Linked DNA regions of Homo sapiens. The protein of the gene in region 2 interacts with the protein of the main gene of each other region in a biochemical or structural test. Each region holds a gene or a part of one and is shown on either strand. Other genes may lie near its edges.

Region 1 (7,020 bases), on a different chromosome or scaffold from region 2:
AATGTGGAGGGTATTTTGTCATCTTTAGGAACTTAGAAGCAGGAGGGTGTGATGGCCAGATGATCTTGGTAGTTAATAAGCTGACAGCTTCATGAAACTCCTCTTAAAGTAATTTAAAAAAAAATATGTGTTTTTTTGGAGTAAAACTCAAACCAAGTTATAGTGCCATTTTAATTTACAGGAAGAAGAGTGGGAGAGAAGAAGTCCATCAGCATTTTAGTGGAGTAAATAATGAAATTAAATGGGAAGAGAAACCATAATTATAAAAGTTACTATGAGTGTGTCAGTGAATTCTATTGTTATTTTCTGCCTCTTTATTTTCAAGAAATAGCTACTTAATTTTGATCCTTACGCTGTAATTTGTCTGCTTTTATTTCAGATAGAGTCAAGTACATCTGATAGTTTATTCATGGATTTGATTTGAATCTCTATAACTTGCTTTTGTCAAGTGCCACATTTAGATGGCTTTTGTTTTATGTCATTATTTTTATCAACAGTATTTTAAAAACTCTACAGTATAGTTTATAAAATACTACGTATAGTTTCTAAGTATTTCATATGATTGTTTTGAAATACCTCCTTCTTTTCATCCACCGTTTTCTCCTGGGCGATCCCATTGTCTTTTTCTTCAAAGAGTTTCTTGTAATCCCTGTTGATTGCGGTAGTGCTTAGTGGCGAGTCCATAGCTGATTAACCTTGGGTGTCTCCTGGTGAACTCCATCAGCATGCTGCTCCAGGGTTCTTGCTGAGGCTTTTGAGTTTAGTGTAATTTGTACCCTTTTTTGCTGGTAACCAGGGATAAGAAAATAAAATGGCCAATGGTTGTAGCGGGAACTGGGAAAAAGTATCCAAGTCTCAGAAAAACTGGGTGTTTATGATGAGATGTAGCCTTTCAAAACAACAACCAAAAACGGATTCATTACTTCATAGAATTGATTGTGGTGTTTTCTGAAGTGTTTGACTCTGGCATGAAGCATCTTGCTTTTTTAATGTTTGAATAATAATATCTTACTTATATAGTACTTTGCAGTTCATAATATATTGCATTATCTCTTTTGATCTTTCCAACAGTTCTTTGAGGTAGGAAAGGCAAGTAATAACTAAATCCTTTTTATAGATAGAGAAAGTGAGCCCAGAAAGGGTACGTGACTATTGCAAGGTCATACAAATAAAAGTGGCAGGGACTTGAGCCTAGGTCTTGTGTAGTCCTCCTTAAAGGTCCTACAGCAGACCTGGAGTCCTCTAGGGTGCCCAGTTCACAGATTTCTACTTATGTTGTTGCTGATACTTTCCCTTTTGGAAAAGCTCTATGCTAGGGTATTTTTGGATATTCTAGGGCATTTTGCAAGCTTCCTTGCAAAAAGTTTGGAGTTTGTTAGTTGGAATCATACACATTAATTTTTGTAAGTATCATTTTGCTTGAGAAAATTTCAGAGAATCTGAGAAGTAAGCAGAAAAATAAACAGTACCTGTAATCCCAACACTCAGAGATATCATGGTTAACATCTGGGTATTTATCCACTTAAGACTTTCTCTCTGTGAGCATATGTATATGTATATTCATCATAAAAAGATACAACACTGTTTTTTATTTATAATCTGCTATTTTCATGTCTATCCAGGTTAGTAAATACAGGTCTATATGATCATTTGAAACCTTACATTGTGTTTTATTAAACTAGTCCCTGTCAGATTATTCTACTTTTTTTTTTTTTTTTTTTTTTGAGACGGAGTCTTCCTCTGTTGCCCAGGCAGTAGTGCAGTGGCGCGATCTCGGCGCACTGCAAGCTCCGCCTCCCGGGTTAACACCATTCTCCTGCCTCAGCCTTCGGTGTAGCTGGGACTACAGGTGCCCGCCACTACGCCCCGCTAATTTTTTTGTACGTTTTTAGTAGAGACGGCGTTTCACCGTGTTGGTCAGGATGGTCTCGATCTCCTGACCTTGTGATTTGCCCGTCTCGGCCTCCCAAAGTGCTGAGATTACAGGCGTGAGCCACCACCGCGCCAGGCCCAGATTATTCTCCTTTTTTTGCAGTGTGTTTGCAGACATGTACCAAAGTTTGCAGATGTTTTATTTTAACTAAATATATTGATATGACAGATCTTTTTTGTGCTTTAGAAAGCAATGCAGGACCGGATGCCATGGCTCACACCTGTAATACCAGCACCTTGGGAGGCTGAGGTGGGCGGATCACGAGGTCAGGAGTTGAAGACCAGCCTGACCAAGATAGTGAAACCCCGTCTCTACTAAAAATACAAAAAATTAGCTGGGCGTGGTGGTGGGCGCCTGTAATCTCAGCTACTCAGGAGGCTGAGGCAGGAGAATCGCTTGAACCTGGGAGGCAGAGGTTGCAGCGAGATTGCGCCACCGGACTCCAGCCTGGGCTACAGTGTGAGATTCCGTCTCAAACAAAAAAAAAAAAAAAAAAAAAGAAAGCAATACAAATGTTTATTTTATTTTTGTAGAGTCAGGGGTCTCACTGTGTTGCCCAGGCTGGTCTCAAATTCCTGGCCTCAAACAGTGCTGCCTCGGTTTCCCAAAGTGTTGGGATTACAGGTGTGAGACACTGTGCCTCTGTGCTCGGTTTTTACAGGTGTGAGGTACTGTGCCACTGCACCCACTCTACAAAATTAGCTAAAATGTTGTCAGTGAAATAAATTAGTCATTCTTGGTTTGTTCATTGTCATACCTTTATTGTTTATGTTTCTGTAATATGTGAGATAAGATTATTAAATGATGGCAGATACAGGTTTTACAAAATGTAAGCAAACATTACTTCAGCATCAGAATGTTTGATAAAGTATGAAATCGATTATGAAGTAGTATTTTATAATCTATTCATACTATTCTATGAATAGTAGAATTTCAAGTAGGCAAGTATGTTTGATTTTGGAAATTATATCACAGTGACCACATATTGCAAGTTTTTGTACCTTATTTAGATGCTTATCAGTTTTTTTTGTTTTGCTGGGATTACAGGTGTGAGCCACCACGCCCAGCTGATGCTTATCAGTTTTTAACTGGCATTTTAAAACTATATTGAACATTGCCAGACGTGGTAATCCCAGCACTTTGGGAGCCAAGGTGGACAGATCACGAGGTCAGGAGTTCGAGACCAGCCTGACCAACATGGTGAAACCCTATCTCTACTAAAAATACAAAAATTAGCCGGGCGTGGTGGTGCGCACCTGTAATCTCAGCTACTCAGGAGGCTGAGGCAGGAGAATTGCTTGAACCTGGGAGGCGGAGGTTACAGAGAGCTGAGACCGTGCCACTGTACTCCAGGCTGGGCGACAGAGTGAGACTCCGTCTCAAAAACAAACAAACAAAAAATCCCCCAAAAAACAAACACTATACTGAACATTAATATAGAGAAAATGGAAATAAGACTTTACCATATTTTTAATCTCAAAACAAAGTGTTGCCATTTAAATTGGGAGGTAACATAGTTTCAAGGATCCACAATCTCTGCCTCCGGGGTTCAGGCAATTCTCCTGCCTCAGCCTCCCGAGTAGCTGGGATTACAGGCATGCGCCACTGCGCCCAGCTAATTTTTGTATTTTTAGTAGAGACAGGGTTTCACCATGTTGGCCAGGTTGGTCTCTATCTCTTGACCTCGTAATCTGCCCGCCTTGGCCTCCCAAAGTTCTGGGATTGTAGGCGTGAGCCACCGTGCCTGGCCCAGGATCTGGTTTTAGAAAGATAACATAGGCAATGAAAGCATTTTTATTTTTAGAAAAAACCTTTATGAGTTAAACCAATTAATAAATGCATATGTGAATTAAGAATGCTATTTGTGCAACATCTGAAAAGTAGTGCATGTAGAAGGAACTTGAAATTGATCGTACTCTAAATTTGATTCGTTCGACTTTGGTCTTCACCTAAATCTGTATTTATGTAACGTTTTATCATTAGGATTTCTTTGAAATAGGCAGTAGAGACAATTTTAAAGTACTTAGTTGTCTTTAACCATCAATTTCAGAAGTAGTATTAATTGCCACTGCACTTTTTGCTAGATGTTTATGACTATATTTCCCCTTCCATGTTAAAAATTGTGCAACTCCTGTTACTTTTGATTCCCTCTACTCTTGGTTTCAGTAGTGTCACATGAAAAGAAAATTCCCTAGAACCCTTCCTTCAGAGTTTTCTGGTAAGTCTTCATTCTTAGCTATGAACTTCTAAAATTCGTCAAAATGAAGAAACCACCTTTTTATTTTTCAGCTTTTCTTTAGATCAAGCAAACAAAACAAACATAAATCCTTTGAATATTAACTAATGATGGAGATATCAGTAACTCTCATAGGACTGTTGTAAACGTTCCTATTTTTGAAAACTTAATCTCTTTTTTACCTTTTTTGCTATTCACTGCTTTCAGTTTACCCGCTTTGGTTGCCGGGTTAATTTCACCAAAACACTCCTTTCATTCTGTCACTCCTATCTATAAAAACTTTGAATGGCTTTCTATCGAAAACTGGATAAAGACTTAGTTCTCAGTCTAGTATTCAAGATTTTCTATTGTCTGGCCCCATTCCACTTTGTGTGTGTGTTTTGTCTCTTCAGCTGTATAGCAAAAGCCCTTAACTTAAAGCCAGAGCTGTTAGTTTGCGTCTTTTTGTTGGCTGGTGTTCTGTTTGTACACCCCCCATTCTCCCATCCCTACCCTGTGGACACAATAGGTGTTTTTAATATACATGTGTCAGATGAACAAATTATGTTTAAGATTTGTTTCTGTCAGAGACTGGGGCCTGATACTCTTGTCTATAAGACAATCTAAATTGAAAATATTTTTAGGGTCATATCTTCGCTCTTTTTTCTTGCTGCTGCTTAGATGAACTTGAATAACATTAAATCCAGAATAATTTATCAAGGGCTGTTTTAGATTTACCTTTTACATTATTTTAAGTTATAGAGATAATAAGTGACTACACTTCTCATTGTAATGATCTAACAGTAAATAGGGTAAAAATGGAAAGACCTCATCATCTTCATTCTTAGAGGGAATCATTTTGGTGTATATCTGTGTATTCTTATTTGGGTGGGCAGGGGGAGGTGACAGCTTTATTGAGATAAAATTAACATATCCCATTACAGTTCACCTCGTTAAAGTGCACAGTCAGGTAGTTTTTGGTATATTCACAAAGTTGTGTAACCATTAACCACAATCAGTTCTAGAATATTTTTTCACCTCGAAAAGCAACCCTACATCCTTTTAGCATCATCCCCTTCCCAAACCTTACCTCACTCTTAGCCCTAGGCGACTGATAATCTATTTTGAGTCTCTGTAGACTTGCCTATTTTGGGCATTTAATATAAATGGAATAAAAATATGTCACTTTTTGTGTCTGGTCTTGTATTCATTTTTTTCTCTGCATGGGCATTTAAATGTGTATGTCTGTATAATATTTTTAATTTATTGTGTGTGTGTATGTCTAGATGAGAACAAAACTAGGCACATAGAAGGAACTTAAGTGAATGTACATGTACATAAATATCTTTTCTAAAACTGTGAGACCATACCATATGTAGCATCCTACAGTTTGCTTTTTTTTACAATAGATAGTGAAGATCTTTCCATGACATGTCCAGACAATGAGATGGTCTCATTCTTTTTAACAGTGTGTAATATTTCCTATGTATGTTTATAGAGATTTACCTCTTGAATTTATCAGTGTATATGGTTAAAAGTTCTTAACAACTTGTTTTGATGGTTTTGCTATACACTACTGGTTTTTTTAAAAAAATAATTGCCACATTTAATGTAACCTCTGTAGTATTAATGCTGGAGTTTCACTTAACAATAGGAATGAAAACATCACAGGTAAGGGTTGTATAGCTTGAGGAGAAATGGAATGCAGGGTCTTTATGCAGTTCTGGCAGTGCTCAGCCAAAGCAATTCATTTTGTATTTGGGTTTCTGAATGTGAGCAAGCCTGTTTTTAAAAAAGCTCATGGCATAGTGCTTAAAATAGAACTTAACATGCTATCTTGTGCTTTATGGTGAATTTTAAGACTTTTTCTTGCAGTCATGCAAGTCTAATCTTAAAGATTGGAAAGATTTCAGAGTAAATATTTTTTCTCATATGTTAAAATCATCATTCTGGTCTATGGGCTTCTGTAAGTTACCCAAGAAGGGGACTGAAGAGGCACAGAACTGGCTCAGAAACTGGCTTATAGTAGATTCTCAGTAATTGTTATTTATTAAAGAATTATTTATCACATTCTGTTATTTATTATATTTTTGGGTATCTGCTGTGTATGAGGTACCAGGTTATTGGTGATTTTAATATATTATCACATATGTGTGTATATTTATTTAAATATTTCTGTTATAGCGGAATGTTTACTAAAAATTATCTTTTTAAAAATTATACAAGTAATGCATCAGTTCTTACAGAGGTTTTCAAAGTCTATTTCTCAGGCCTCTGGTGGTTCCCCGAAGTTTTTCTGAGGGTTCTCCAGGTCAAAATGATTTTCCTAATAATAGGCATTATTTACGTGCTGACATTTGCAAAATCAGTGGTGGGTAAAACTGCCAGCACCTTGGCACAAATTAAGGCATTGGTACTAAATTGTACTAGTAGTTGTGTTCTTCATCACTGTGCACTTGGAATTAAAAAAAAAAATGCCAGTTAAACTTTATGTCCTTGATGAAGCAATAAAACTTACTAATTTTATTGTATCTCAATCCTTGAGTACATTTAAAAATATATTTTGTATGATGAAATGAAAAGTACCTGTAAAACACTTTTATTGAATATCAAATCTGATGGTTAACTCAAGGAAAAGAACTTGTGCAGTTGAGTTGTGAGCTTTTTAAATGGAATACCATTTTTACTTGAAAAAATGGCTGGCAAAGTATGGTTATACAGACTAGGGTATTTGGCATACATTTTCATGAAAATAAACAAAGTGTGCCTGTCACTACAGGGAAAACAACTGACAATATTTGTTACTAATGATAAAATTTAAGCTTTCAAATGAAAATAGAACTTTGGAAGACATGTATTTGCCACTGTGAGC
Region 2 (7,178 bases):
TGCTGGGATTACAGGCGTGAGCCACCGCGCCCAGCCTATTATCCTGGATAATAACTCCTTCTCAGATATGTGAATTTTTTTTTCTTTTTATTTTTAAATGAAGTCTCGTTCTGTTGCCCAAGCTGGAGTGCAGTGACGCCATCTCGGCTCACTGCAACCTCTGCCTCCCGTGTTCAGGAGATTCTCCTGCCTCAGCCTTCGAAGTAGCTGGAATTACAGGCGTGCACCACCACACCCAACTAATTTTTGCATTTTTAGTAGAGACAGGGTTTCACCATGTTGGGCAGGCTGGTCTCAAACTCCTGAGCTCAAGCGATCTGCCCTACTCAGCCTCCCAAAGTCCTGGGATTACCAGCGTGAGCCACCGCGCCTGGCCCGAGGCTGACTTTTGAGCTGGTTTTTGTGCGTGCTCCGGGGTAAGGGTCCACCTTCACTCTACTGCAGAGGCCCTTATTCCTCTGGGGGAATCGGCCCTCAGTGAAGAGGCCTCTGCTCTCAAACCCCTGTGCAGAGCCTGGCCCCAGCAGGCCCCGGAGGGGGCACCCAGGGCACTGGAGGTCCCGCCCTACCGCAGGCAGCTCTGCATCACACTTCCTGCTCCCCTCCCAAGGGGACCAGGGCAAAGGTGGGCGCGTGCCTGGCACAGTCAGCCACAAGCCTTGCCCAGGATCTTATAGTTACTGATTCAAACCCCCCACCCTCTCCAAGCCTCAGTTTCTCCTTTGTACCCAGGGAGCTGGACCCAACAAGTCCCCTCTCCTTGAAAACGTGTGCCAGGTGCAGGCTGCTCAAAGGACACTTGTGGGCTGAGGATGCACAACTGAGGGAGCCTCTTCCCTCCCCCACCTGCTCCATGCCCCTCACCCCCACCTGCTCCATGACCCTCACCCCTACCTGCTCCATGTCCCTCACCCTCACCTGCCACAGCCTCCCCAAACCCCAGCCCCTCCTGGCACTACTTCCCACCAGGACAGGAATTCTCTAGATGCCTGAGCCATGTCTCCTCAGTCCCTCACCACACACACACAGGGAACCAGGGCCTTGTCTTACTTCTCCTGTTCCACAACCTTCTATGGCTCCCATGGCCCACAGGTTCAGGCCCAGGCCCTCCCCAGCCACACACCACATCCAGTCAGTCTCCCCAAGCCCCACTCATGACAAGCCCCCCACCTCACCAGCCCTGCCCTCTCTGTGCCTGAGGCTGCAGCGGGATCCACCGAGGCCCGTGGCTGTCTTGCTTTTCTTCAGCCACGGCTTTTACTGGCTGACGCCTCCCCACACAGCCCTGTGCTGGCATCTTCGCCAGAAAGATGGCGTTGGAACCTTAGCCCATGTCAGGAAGCCAAAGGGCCATATCCCTCTGCCAGGCTTGCCCAGGGGGCTGGTTAAGAATGCAGATTTCAGCTGGGCGTGGTGGTCCACACCTGTAATCCCAGCACTTTGGGAGGCCGAGGTGGGCGGATCACTTGAAGTCAGGAGTTTGAGACCAGCCTAGCCAACATGGTGAAACCCCGTCTCTATTAAAAATACAAAAATTAGCCGGGTGTGGTGGTGCACGCCTGTAATCCCAGCTACTCGGGAGGCTGAGGCAGGAGGATCGCTTGAACTCAGGAGGTGGAGGTTGCAGTAAGCCAAGATGGCGCCACTGCACTCTAGCCTGGGCAACACAGTGAGACTCCATCTCACAAAAAAAAGGAAAAAAAAAAAGCAGATTCCCAGGACCTCAAGGCTGGGGGCCAGGACAGCAGGTGTCTAGACAGGCCACGGAGGCTCTGAGCCTGGGAGTTGCAGCCAGGCCAGGCCCCCGCTGGTCTTGGTGGGACAGGGCTGTGCATGGCTTCCAGGGACTGGATTCTGGGGGAGGCTGCCCCTGCTGCCCTGGACCCACATCCCCACGGCTGCGCCTCCCAGGCAGGCAGACCCAGGGTGTGTGGCTGCCCCTCCTGCTGCAGGTGCCTGACAGGGAAATGCCCGCTGGGGACCCTGTGGGAGGTGGTGGGGGAATGAGTGAGGGAGGGAGGGAGTGAATGAGTGAAGGAGGGAATGAGTGAGTGAGGGAGGGAATTAATGCATGAGTGAGGGAGGGAATGAATGAATGAGGGAGGAAGGGAATGAGTGAGGGAGGGAATGAATGAGTGAGGGAGGGAATGAGTGAGGGAGGGAATGAATGAGGGAGGGAATGAATGAATGAGGGAGAGAGGGAGGGAATGAGGGAGGGAGGCAATGAGTGAGGGATGGAATAAATGAGTAAGGGAGGGAATGAGTGAGGGAGGGAGGGAATGAATGAATGAGGGAGGGAGTGAATGAATGAGTGAGGGAGGAAGTGAATGAGGGAGGAAGGGAATGAGTGAGGGATGGAATGAATAAGGGAGAGAATCAGTGAGGGAGGGAGGGAATGAATGAGTGAGGGAGGGAATGAGTGAGGGAGGCAGGGAATGAATGAGGGAGGGTGGGAATGAATGAGGGAGGGAATGAATGAATGAGGGAGGGAATGAATGAATGAGGGAGGGAGGGAATGAGGGAGGGAGGGAATGAATGAATGAGGGAGGGAATGAACGAATGAGGGAGGGAATGAATGAGGGAGGAATGAGTAAGTGAGGGAGGGAATGAGTTTGTGAGAGTGGGAATGAGTGAGGGAGGGAGGGAATGAATGAATGAGAGAGGAAATGAGTGAGGGAGGGAATGAGTGAGGGAAGGAATGAATGAGTGATGGAGGGAATGAATGAATCAGTGAGGGAGGGAATCAGTGAGGGAGGGAATGAGTGAGTGAGGGAGGGAGGGAATGAATGAGAGAGGGAATGAGTGAGGGAGGGAAGGAATGAATGAGGGTGGGAATGAATGAATGAGGGCGGGAATGAATGAATGAGGGCGGGAATGAGTGAGAGTGAGAATGAGTGAGTGAGGGAGGGAATGAATGAGTGAGGGAGGGAATGAGTGAGGGAGGGAATGAGTGAGTGAGGGAGGGAATGAGTGAGGGAGGGAATGAGTGAGTGAGGGAGGGAATGAGTGAGTGGGAATGAATGAGTAAGTGAGGGAGGGAATGAGTGAGTGAGGGTGGCAATGAATGAGTAAGTGAGGGAGGGAATGCGTGAGAGAGGGAAGGAATGATTGAGTGATGGAGGGATCGAATGAATGAGGGAGGGAGGGAATTAGTGAGGGAGGGAGGGAATTAGTGAGTGAGGGAGGGAATGACGGAGTAGGGGAGGGAATGAATGAATGAGTGAGGGAGGGAATGAATGAATGTGGTCACTCCCCGCGGTCCCCAAGCACCCGGACACCGTGACCTTGGCTGCGGCCCCGCCGTCGGCGAAATGCGGGCGGGGGGGCCGGGAGAGCCCGGGGGCCAGCACGGTCGCGCGTTGGCGAACGGACTGTCCCGCGCGCTCGCGGGTCTGGGGGCCTCCCGACCCGGTCCTGCTTGTTGCGTGGGCGGGAGGGGGGACCGGAAGCGCCCCTCCCCCACGGGCTCGCCCCGCCCCCGCCGCTCGCGGTCCCCCACGTCCCGCCCGCGCCCCGGCCCAGGGCCAGCCCCCGGTTTAGGGAGCATCCACACTTCTCCTCCCGTCGGTCATGCTCGCATTCGGCCTTTTGTACGGGGTCAGCTCATTGGGCGGATGAGAAGGTGTCCCCGCCTACCGCCCCGAACTGGCCAATTGCAAGGGGTTTCACAGGGCGCTGAACTCGCGGGAGCGTCACCGTCCTGCGACGCTTCAGAGGATCCTTAGGCCTCAGTGGTCTTTGACCCCCGGCCCCAGGACCTGACCCCAAGGAAACCTCCGGGACCTGTGGCTGGAGAGGTGACCGCCAGGCATCCGGGGAGCCTTTGGAGATCTCGGCTTCCTTTTTCCCCCGCTGCTTGCCGGCGTGTCCTCGGGTGGACGCGGGCAGCCCGAAGGGGAGTTTACAGACGCTCCCTCACATCGGGGACGCGGCTCCTTTAAGGGCGTAGGTGTCCAGGGCGCCGCCTGACTGGAAAGTCGCCCCCCGGCCGGGCTCCTGGGGCGGACCCGGGGCGCGGGCGCGCGGCGGCGGGGCGCGGGCAACGGGGAGCGCTCGGCGGCGCGGGAGGCGCTCGGGGCCGGGCGGCAGGAGCGGCGCGCGAGGCAGGCGTGCAGAGGGCAGCCCCGCGTTAGGCCCCGCCCCGCGCGCCCCGCCCGCGCCAGGGTCCTCGGAGCTGCTCTGGCTGCGCGCGGAGCGGGCTCCGGAGGGAAGTCCCGAGACAAAGGGAAGCGCCGCCGCCGCCGCCCCGCTCGGTCCTCCACCTGTCCGCTACGCTCGCCGGGGCTGCGGCCGCCCGAGGTGAGCGCGTGCGGGGGCCGGGCCGGGGCCGCGGGGCGGGGGTCGGGCCGAGGCCTCTACTCCTGTTGGGCCCGGGCCCCCGACTGCCCCGCGCCCCGCCCCGCCGAGCCGGGCCCCGCGCCGCGGCCGAGCTTTCCGGGGAGCCCGAGAGGCCCCGCGCTCGGCGCCGGCTCGGTCCGCGCTGCTGGCGCCGCTGGGCTGCGGCCCGAGCGGCCGGGCCGCCGCAGGCCTTCGGGGCCGGGGCTCCCCCACTTCGCCCCCGAGGTGCGCCTGGCGCGGGGCCGGGGCAGCCACCTGCAGCCGGGGCCCCGCGAGGCCGCGCCTTCCTCCTGCGCGGGGAGCGGCTTCCGGGGTCACGGTCGCCCCGCGGACGGATAGGATGGGCCGCGGGGGGAGAGTCTTGGATTGCAACATCGCTGGCTCGCGGGGGTGGGGGCCGGCGAGCGGGCTTGTTTTCGGTGCCTTAAAACCAAAACAAGTGTAAGTTTTCTTGTGCCTCTGAAGATGCTCCGCTGGCGCTTGCTGGGGCCCTGAACGTGAGCGCCTCGCTGGAGGGGGAGTTTTATTCTGTTTTGGACATCTCTTTTTATCGGTTGAATAGTAGTTGGTTCTGGTAGTTAACGTGCGTAGGAGGAATGTAAGGGAATGATTAGTTGGGCTTGTGATCGTGGCCTGTAGTCACGCTTGAATCGCAGAATGAAGTGGTTTTGTTTGTATAATTGGAAGTTACGCTTAGTTTCTCTGTTTGCAAAGTGCCTGTCTTTGGGGAGTTCGGTTTGTTTCCTTTTACAGGACCTACCCCAAGTGTTTCTTGCTCTTCAAGAAACGTTGCCTTTGGGTAGAGAACCTATGCAACGGAAGACGGGACGGATCCTCAGTTTGCCCTGATTGCTCATTCAGAGAGGTCCGTTCCCTAGGCCACTGGGTGATTGCTGGTGTGCGCTTGTATGGTGTCTCAGGGTTTGGGATCTTGCTTCAGAAACATTCTCGGGGCCTGGGGCAGATCAGGTGCGGCCAGGTAAGCGTCTCCCGACTGCAGGTGCTTGGGTCTTGCAGAAGGGAATACCTCCCCAAGCCTGGGAGAGTTTGCATTTGGGTGCAGGAGGGCCTTTAAAGGCTTCTTGTGCCAGCCTGTCGTGGCGACCACCCGTTGTGGAGATCAGTGCGGTGGAGTTGTGGGAGGTGAGTGCTTTGCTCACCCTCAGCCAGGAAGTTGCTCTGAAGTCGGTGCTGTCAACCAGCAGAGCAAGGCGGTGATCCGAGAAGCTAAAGCTCAGCCGGTTGCGGGCGCCCAGCAGGAGGACAGAAGGCAGACTTTCGGGCCGCTCCTGGAGTGCCCGGCCCTGTCCCCGTTTCTGCAGTGTCTGGGCCTTGCCTGGCTCTAATAGATGAGGGTTGTTTTTGTCTTTGCATCATAAAAGTTTCTTGCTCTGAAGCGTTTAGTAACTACTAGCCGTTCACTAAGTGCCTATCTGTGAATTTGGAAGGGCAAATTCGATTTTCAGCGGAATTTTGAACGCTTGATCTGTGTTGTGATTACATTGTAACAGATTGGCCGCTTTCTCCAGAAGGCCAGTAGGAGGGGGTGCAGGGGGAGGGGCCTGGCTTCTGTCTGGGACACGGTGGGTGTGCACCTGTGGCTCCTTGCCCTGGCGGTGCAGTGCCTGTGAGACCACCCCGTGGTGCTGAGTGCTTTGGGGCAGGGGACACAGCAGCAGCAGCCAGGTCTTGGCAGGAGGTCTCGCAGGACCACCCCTCACGACTTCTCACACCTGAGACAGCAATAGCTAGGTGCTGGGACGGGGGCCTCTAGGCGGCTCTGTCCAGTCCTCAGCAGGAGGGCTGCCTGTGGCAGGGTCCCAGGCCCGTCTGGCCTCTCTGTGGCCTGGCCTTGCCTGGCTGTGAGGATAGCCTTGCCCATGGTCCTTCAGTGTCTGGAGCACTGGCCTGAGGCTTCAGAGACTTGCCTGATGCCTGGCCTCGCTCAGACCCCGGGCACCTGGGAGGTCGTGCCTCCTTGAAATGGCCACTCGCCAGGCTGCTTTGCACCGCACCGGGCACAGGCTGCGGCCACTCAGGAAGCCCATCCTGGGGCTGGGGAAGCGAGAGCTGTGAGTCCTCAAGTCGCAGCTGGGCTGCTCCACGTGGGAGTGGAGGGTGGAGGAACGTGTGGAGTTTCGGAGTCCAGCCCAGTGCGGAGACAGCCTTGAAACCGTGGTTGGCGGGCGCTCCACTCCGCTCTGGGCTCGAACCCTGCCTGACCATAGCTGTGCCCCCCACTTTCTCCCTGTCTGGCCCCTGGCTCCCCCCCCCTCACTTAGAGGAGGGCACGGGGAAGGGCAAACGGTCCAGAGGGCGGGCGGCCTGCGGGCTCCTCTGCATCATGTGAGGAGGGCGTGGGGAAGGACATCCCGGTGGGGCCCGGTCTGGGGCTGCCTCCAGCCCGGGCTGCCTGTCTTGGACTTAGTCGTGGACCTGGAGGCCAGTGCCCGGCTGGCCCCTGTCACCCTCTCGCTGTGACGCCAGCGCCTGCTGACTGGAGGACCCAGGTTCCTTCGCCTGCTTTTTCTCAGGCTGCCCTGAGGATCTGTGTTTGGTGAAAAGGAGCCAAATTCACCTGCAGGGCAGGCGGCTCTAGCAGCTTCAGAAGCCTGGTGCCCTGGCGACACTGGACCTGCCTTGGCTTCTTTGATCCCAACCCCACCCCCGATTTCTGCTCTGCTGACTGGGGAAGTCATCGTGCCACCCAGAACCTGAGTGCGGGCCTCTCAGAGCTCCTTCGTCCGTGGGTCTGCCGGGGACTGGGCCTTGTCTCCCTAACGAGTGCCAGGTGAGGCTGCGGCGGCTCCGACGCAGGTGGAGCTGCTGACCTGGCCCCT
Region 3 (7,484 bases), on a different chromosome or scaffold from region 2:
GTACAGGAGAAAATAATTTATGCAGCAATTAGCTTTATTTTCAGGGCTCTTTTTCTTTTCTTTTTTTTTTGTTGAGACGGAGTCTCGCTCTTTTGCCCAGGCCGGAGTGCAGTGGCGCTATCTTGGCTCAGTGCAAGCTCTGCCTCCTGGGTTCATACCATTTTCCTGCCTCAGCCTCCCGAGTAGCTGGGACTACAGGCACCCGCCACCATGCCCAGCTAATTTTTTGTATTTTTAGTAGACACGGGGTTTCACCGTGTTAGCCAGGATGGTCTCGATCTCCTGACCTCATGATCCGCCCGCCTCTGCCTCCCAAAGTGCTGGGATTACACGCGTGAGCCACCGCGCCTGGCCAACAAAGTGATCATTTTACAAGAGTTATGGCATAGTCACAGGTAAGAACCTGGGTCACTGGGTCACTCCCTAACCAATTACGAATTACTATATGCCATGGACCTTCAGGATTACTTTCTTTTTTGTTTTGTTTTTGTTTTTTTTTTTGAGACAGAGTCTCGCTCTGTCACCCAGACCGGGGTGCAGTGGCGCGATCTCAGCTCACTGCAACCTCTGCCTCCCGGATTCAAGCAATTCTCCTGCCTCAGCCTCCCGAGTAGCTGGGATTACAGGCATGTGCCACCACGCCTGGCTAATTTTTTTGTATTTTTAGTAGAGACCGGGTTTCACCATATTGGCCAGGCTGGTCTCGAACTCCTGACCTTGTGATCCACCCACCTTGACCTCCCAAAGTCCTGGGATTACAGGCGTGAGCCACCGCGCCCAGCCCAGGATTACTTTCTTTCTTTCTTTTGAGACAGAGTTTTGCTCTTGTTGCCCAGGCTGGAGTGCAATGGCACAATCTCGGATCACTGCAACCTCCACCTCTCAGGTTCAAGCGATTCTCCTGCCTCAGCCTCCCAAGTAGCTGGGATTACAGGCATGCGGCACCATGCCTAAAATTTTGTATTTTTAGTAGAGATGGGGTTTCTCCACTTTGGTCAGGATGGTCTCGAACTCCCGACCTCAGGTGATCCGCCCGCCTCGGCCTCCCAAAGTGCTGGTATTACAGGCATGAGCCACCGTGCCTGGCCTCTATTTTTCTTTCTATAATCCATGTACATTTTCCTTTAATAATATAAGGCAACTAAACAGCACTTTATTTTCAGAGGCTTATCTAAAAGATACTTGACACAGCCCTTTGCAGCTGGGTCATTCTCTGAATTCTAAATGTCGTTTCCTGCACAAAGTGGTTATTTGATCTTGTAACTGGCATTTTCCCCGGAGATTAGGAAGTGGCACACCAAAGTGCAAAAAACTTTGGAATCAGAACTTTAATTTTTAATCTTTATTTTATTTATTTATTTATTTTTGTGACAGAGTCTCGCTCTGTTGCCCAGGCTAGAGTGCAATGGCAAGATCTCCACTCACTACAAACTCCACCTCCCGGGTTCAAGTGATTCTCCGCCTTCAGCCTCCTGGGTAGCTGGGATCACAGGCGCACACCACCACACTCGGCTAATTTTTGTATTTTGAGTAGAGATGGGGTTTCACCATGTTGGCCAGGCTGGTCTCTAACTCCTGACCTCAGGTGATCCTCCCGTCCATGCCTCCCAAAGTGCTGGGATTACAGGTATGAGTCACTGTGCCCGGCCTAATTTTTATATTTTTTTGTAGAGACGGGGTCTGGCTGTGTTTGACAGCCTCAAACTCCTGGCCTCAAGTGATCCTCTCAAAGTGTTGGGATTACAGACATGAGCCACAGTGCCTGGCCTATTGAAAGCTTTTCCATCATAATAGGTCCTTCCCCCCAATGCTTGCAGCAAGTCAATAGTAGGAGACCCCAGGTTGCAGCAGAGAAAGAGGTTTAATCATAGGGGCCACTGAAAACCAAGAGAGGAGATGGAAGGAACCACGAATCCACTTCCCCAGGGAGTTCGGGGCTTTTTAAGGGTTTTGGAGTGGGTTGAAGTGTGGAGGTCATTGGTTGGTTGAAGTGTGCAGGGTGAAGTAATGAAACAGGGAGTTGAAGAAACTCTATTCTCCTGTCGATTTGGTTCCTCTGCGGGGTCTTCACACTGGTTGGTATCAGCTGTTTTGCTGGAATTCAGGATCTGAAAAATATCTTAAGCTTTTTTTTTTTTTTTTTTTTTTTTGAGACAAGGTCTGTTGTCCAGGCTGGAGTGCAGTGGTGCCATCATAGCTCATTGCAGCCTCTAACGCCTGGGCTCAAAGGATCCTTCCACCTTAGCCTCCCAAGTAGCTGGGATTACAGGCACGCACCACCACACCCAGCTAATTAAAAAATTTTTTTTTTTGTAGAGACAGGGGTCTTGTCATGTTGCCCAGGCTGGTCATGAACTCCTGACTTCAAGTGATTTTCCTATCTCAGTCTCCTAAAGCGCATGGATTACAGGCATGAGCCACCATGCCGGGCGCTAAGCAATTCTTATTATTTATTTATTTATTTATTTATTTATTTTTTTCTGAGACGGAGTCTTGCTCTGTTGCCCAGGCTGGAGTGCAGTGGCGCGAACTCGGCTCACTGCAAGCTCCATCTCCCAGGTTCATGCTATTCTCTTGCCTCAGCCTCCTCAGTAGCTGGGACTACATGCGCCTGCCACCACGCCCGGCTAATTTTTTGTAGTTTTAGTAGAGACAAGGTTTCACCATGTTAGCCAGGCTGATCTCGAACTCCTGACCTCGTGATCCGCCCACCTCTGCCTCCCAAAATGCTGGGATTACAGGCGTGAGCCACCACCTCCGGCCTAAGCAATTCTTAAATAAAAATCTATGATTCCGCCAGGCATGGTGGCTCACACCTGTAATCCGTGCACTTTGGGAGGCCGAGGCGGGTGGATCACAAGTTCAGGAGTTCGAGACCAGCCTGGCCAACATGGTGCAATCCCTGTCTCTACTAAAAATACAAAAGTTAGGTGGGCATGGTGGCTTTTTTTTTTTTTTTTTTAGACGGGAGTCTCTGTCATCCATGCTGGAGTGCAGTGGCAGGATCTTGGCTCACTGCAACCTCTGCCTCCCAGGTTCAAGCGATTCTCCGGCCTCAGCCTCCCAATTGGCTGAGACTACAGGCGTGTGCCACCACGCCCGGCTAATTTTTTAGTATTAGTAGAGATGGGGGTTTCACCATCTTGGCCGGGCTGGTCTCGAACTCCTGACTTCGTGATCTGCCCTCCCTGGCGTCCCAAAGTGCTGGGATTACAGGCATGAGCCACTGTGCCCTGCCAAAAAGCCTATGATTCTAACATCAGAAATCCTTCCACCTCAGCCTCCCACGTAGCTGGGACTATAGACTCAGTACCACCACACCAAGCTAATTTTTGTATTTTTAATAGAGATAGCGTTTCCCTATATTGACCACCTGGGGCCATCCCTGGTTTTTTTTTTTTTTCCCTTCCTTCCTTCCTTTCCCTCTCTCTTTCCCTCCCTCCTTCCTTCCTTTCTTTCTTTCTTTCTTTTTTTTTTTTTTTTACAGAGTCTTGCTCTGTTACCCAGGTTGGAGTGCAGAGGCATGATCTTGGCTTACTACAACCTCCGCCTCCCGGATTCAAGCAATTATCCTACCTCAGCCTTCCAAGTAGCTGGGACTACAAGTGTGAGCCACCATGCCCTGCTAATTTTTTTATTTTTACTAAAGACGGGATTTCACCACATTAGCCAGGCTGGTCTCCAACTCCTGATTTAAAGTAATCTGCCTGCCTTGGCCTTCCGAAGTGCTGAGATTACAGGTGCGAGTCACCGTGCCTGGCCTATTCCTGTTTTCTTAACGCTCCTCTCTCCCACTGGGCCGTGACTGCCTCTAAGGCAGAGATGTGTTCATTTTTATTATTATTGTATGTCCAGGGCTGGGCACAAAGTGCAACACATAGTAGGGACATGAAAGGCTGGGCACAGTGGCTCATGGTTGTAATCCCAGCACTTTGGGAGGCAGAGGCGGGAGGATGGCTTGAGGCCAGGAGTTGGAGACCAGCCTAGGCAACAGAGGGACCCCATCTCTATGAAAAAAAAAAAAAAAAATTGACAGTTCAATGTCACCTCTGATAAGCCTTCCCTGACCACCCCTGTTACTCTGTAGCCCCATGTCCTGCTTTATTTTTCTCCAAAGCATTTATCATCGCTGGGTTTATATTTATTTCTCTTCGGGCTTTTCTCACTGGATCGTAAACTCCATGAGGACAGGGCTTTGTCGATTTCACTCAATACCGTTATTTTACAACATCCCTATTGCTGGGATCTCAGTATGCACTCCTTAAATATTTGCAGAATTTAAGTGCCACATAAGTGACCACGTGGGCAACGCCCTCGGGGCCTTAAGCCGCGCCATTTTTGGGGCTAGGATTGGTTGGACCCTCCGTCACGTGACATGCAGTCGCCGGATCGCCTTTGAGTCTCGTGAGGTACTTTTGGTCCCAGGCTCCGCGGACGAGGTACTGCGCAGGCGTGGGAGGGTCTGCGCATGCGCAGAAGCACTCCGGGCGTGCTGCCGGCGGCGGTAGGTGGCGCGCGGGTCCGGCGGGCGGTTGGCTTGAGCGGGACCGGAGCTGAGGCAGGAAGAGCCGGCGCCATGGTGGAGAAGGAGGAGGCTGGCGGCGGCATTAGCGAGGAGGAGGCGGCACAGTATGACCGGCAGATCCGCCTGTGGGGACTGGAGGCCCAGAAACGGTCAGGGCCGGCGCGGCTTGAGGCCGCTAGGGTCTGGAGGGGGCGTCTATTCTGAGGCGTTTGCGGCCCGGAAGGAGCGGGAAGGTGTGATTTGAAGGGAGGAGGCGGGAATTCTGTGCTCTGGGATCGTCTCTCTCTTGGGGGGACTGGAGGAGTTGATTGGGGATGTTTCTGGAAGGTCTGGGAAGTGGTTGGGAGGGCCGTTCCGAAGGATGGGAGCTCTGAAGGGGGCGTTGGGGAGTCCTGAGAGAGCGGGAGAATTCAAACTCAGGAAATCCGAGGCCCGAAAGCGGTGATTGTGGGGTTTGATCGCGGTTAGGGGATAAGAGGGGCTGGGGATACGTGGAAAGGGTGAGGTGAGGGACGCAGTTCATTCATTCGAGGGTATGGGACCTGGTTCCGTGCTGCACACAGGGGAGACTGGACTGGCCAACCGGACAGACGGGAGCTTACACTCTTGTGGGAGCTCACGGGCGGGCCAGTCTGAGAGAATGCGGGTTTTGAGGAGTTTTGGAGCAAGTTATCTCAAATGGGAATCTTGAGAGGCTCGGAGAGGCTGGAGGGGGACGGCCGTAGGCTCCCGAAAAGGTTGCTTGTGTTTGGTATGGGGCTGTGTCTTGATAGGACAGGAGACGTAGTTTGGGCATTGTGGAGTAGCTTAGGGAATTCTTTTTTTTTTTTTTTTTTTTTTTGAGATAGTCTCTCTCTGTCGCCCAGGCTGGAGGGCAGTGGCGCGATCTCGGCTCACTGCAACCTCTGCCTCCCGGATTCAAGCGATTCTCCTAACTCAGCCTCCCGAGTAGCTGGGATTATAGGGGCCCGCCAGCACGCCCGGCTAATTTTTGTATTTTTAGTAGACACGGGGTTTCGCCATATTGACGAGACTGGTCTCGATCTCCTTACCTCAAGTGATCCACCCGCCTCGGCCTCCTGAAGTGCTGGGATTACAGGAGTGAGCCACCGCGCCAGGACGTCTTTTGTTTTGTGCAGTTGGGTGACCTCGGTTCACTGCAGCCTCTGGCCTCCCGGGTTCAAGACTTCCTCTCACCTCAGTCTTCTGAGTAGCTGGGATTACAGGCTCGCGCCACCATGCCTGGCTAATTTTTGTATTTTTAGTAGACATGGGTTTTCACCATGTTGGCCAGGCTGGTCTCAAACTCCGGACCTCAAGTGATCTGCCCGCCACAGCCTCCCAAAGTGGTTGGATTACAGACGTGAGCCACTGTGCCCAGCTTGTTTTTTTTTTTTTTCTTTCTCTGTGGCCCAGTGGAGTGCAGTGGTGGGATCACAGCTCACTGTAGCCTCAACCTCCAAGGCTCAAGGGATATTCCCTCTTCAGCCTCCCAAGTAGCTGGGACTACAGGCGTGCCCCACCACATCATCCGACTAATTTTTGTTTTTTTTTTTTTTTGTAGGATGGGGTTTTGCCATGTTGCCCAGACTGGTCTTGAACTCCCAAGCTCAAGCGATCCTCGGCCTCAAGAGATCTCCCCCCATCTCAGACTCCTAAAATGCTGGGATTACAGGCATGAGCTACCATGCCTGGCCTCATTGATCAATATTTTTACTTAGCCTGGACGCAGTGACTCACACCTGTAATCCCAGCACTTTGGGAAGCTGAGTTGGGGGGAGGGGACCTCTTGAGCCCAGGAGTTTGAGACTAGCCTGGGTAATGTTGCCAAACCCAGTCTCTACAAAAAAATACAAAAATTAGCCAGGCATGGTGACATAAGTTTATAGTCCCAGCTTGTCAGGAGACTGAGGTGGGAGCATCACCTGAGCCCCTGGGAGGTGGAGGTTGCAGTGAGCCATGATCACACCACTACACCCCAGCCTGGGTGACAGAGTGAGGCCCCGTCTCAAAAAAAAAAAAAAAATCCACAAGCGTGTGTATATGTGTCAGTTATTAAAGGATGGTGAAGTGAGAGGGTTGTTTTGATAGGTTGGCCAGGGAAGGGCTCTGAAGAGGTAACATTGAGCCTCAGACTTATATGGGAAAGAGCCCTGTGGTCATCTGGGAGAACTTTCCTAGCTAAGAGAACAGCAAGTGCAAATTCCCAGAGGCCCAGGCATGATTGTCAAATTAGAGAAATAAGGTGGCAGGAACCAAATGATTTGAGGAGTAGCTTTTATTCTAAGTGTGTGGGAAAACCTGTTGGAGTGTTTTGAGTGTGGGAGTAACATGATCTGTTTTTTGTTTGTTTTTTGAGACGGAGTCTTGCTCTGTGGCCCAGGCTGGAGTGCAATGGCACGATCTCGGCTCACTGCCATTGCAGTGAATCCGCCTCCCAGGTTCAAGCGATTCTCCTGCCTCACCTTCCTGAGTAGCTGGGACTATCGGCATGTGCCACAACACCCGGCTAATCTTGAGTATTTTTAGTAGAGACGGGGTTTCACCATGTTAGACAGGATAGTCTCGATCTCCTGACCTCGTGATCCGCCTGCCTTGGGCTCCCAAAGTGCTGTGATTACAGGCGTGAGCCACTGCGGCCTGGCCTGGTTTGTGTTTTAAAATGATCGCTCCAGAATAGGTTAAAGTGGTCAGAAATGGAAGTAAAGATTCTGGCTGGACTGTTGCAGTAATCCAGTTGAGATAAAAATATTGGTGGCTTGAAACTCAAGAGAAGGGGTCAAATAAATATATTCTGGATATATTTTGAAGGTAGAAGAGGGAACAGAATTTGGGGCAGAAGTCCAGGATGACACCACTGTTTTTGGCTTGAGCACCTACCTGGAACGATGGAATTGCCATTTTGAAAGATATGGAGAGCTGTAGGTTTGGTGGGGTCGGGGAAGAGTCAGTTCTCTTT

The links.
Region 1: the proteins of UBE2I (region 2) and PIAS1 form a complex in vitro, tested with the Homo sapiens proteins (12 studies listed by BioGRID, with this or other methods).
Region 3: of the proteins of UBE2I (region 2) and SAE1, one has a biochemical effect on the other in vitro, tested with the Homo sapiens proteins (6 studies listed by BioGRID, with this or other methods).

What each region holds. Positions count from the first base shown.
Region 1 is NC_000015.10:68,057,299-68,064,318, forward strand, and holds part of PIAS1 (E3 SUMO-protein ligase PIAS1), read left to right. Parts: intron 1-181; exon of another isoform or gene 182-231; coding exon of another isoform or gene 232-282; intron 283-7,020. UniProt on the Homo sapiens protein: Functions as an E3-type small ubiquitin-like modifier (SUMO) ligase, stabilizing the interaction between UBE2I and the substrate, and as a SUMO-tethering factor. Catalyzes sumoylation of various proteins, such as CEBPB, MRE11, MTA1, PTK2 and PML.
Region 2 is NC_000016.10:1,305,475-1,312,652, forward strand, and holds the start of UBE2I (SUMO-conjugating enzyme UBC9), read left to right. Parts: upstream 1-4,161; 5' UTR 4,162-4,299; intron 4,300-6,872; exon of another isoform or gene 6,873-7,129; intron 7,130-7,178. UniProt on the Homo sapiens protein: Accepts the ubiquitin-like proteins SUMO1, SUMO2, SUMO3, SUMO4 and SUMO1P1/SUMO5 from the UBLE1A-UBLE1B E1 complex and catalyzes their covalent attachment to other proteins with the help of an E3 ligase such as RANBP2, CBX4 and ZNF451.
Region 3 is NC_000019.10:47,126,355-47,133,838, forward strand, and holds the start of SAE1 (SUMO-activating enzyme subunit 1), read left to right. Parts: upstream 1-4,480; 5' UTR 4,481-4,576; coding exon 4,577-4,674; exon of another isoform or gene 4,675-4,758; intron 4,759-7,484. UniProt on the Homo sapiens protein: The heterodimer acts as an E1 ligase for SUMO1, SUMO2, SUMO3, and probably SUMO4. It mediates ATP-dependent activation of SUMO proteins followed by formation of a thioester bond between a SUMO protein and a conserved active site cysteine residue on UBA2/SAE2.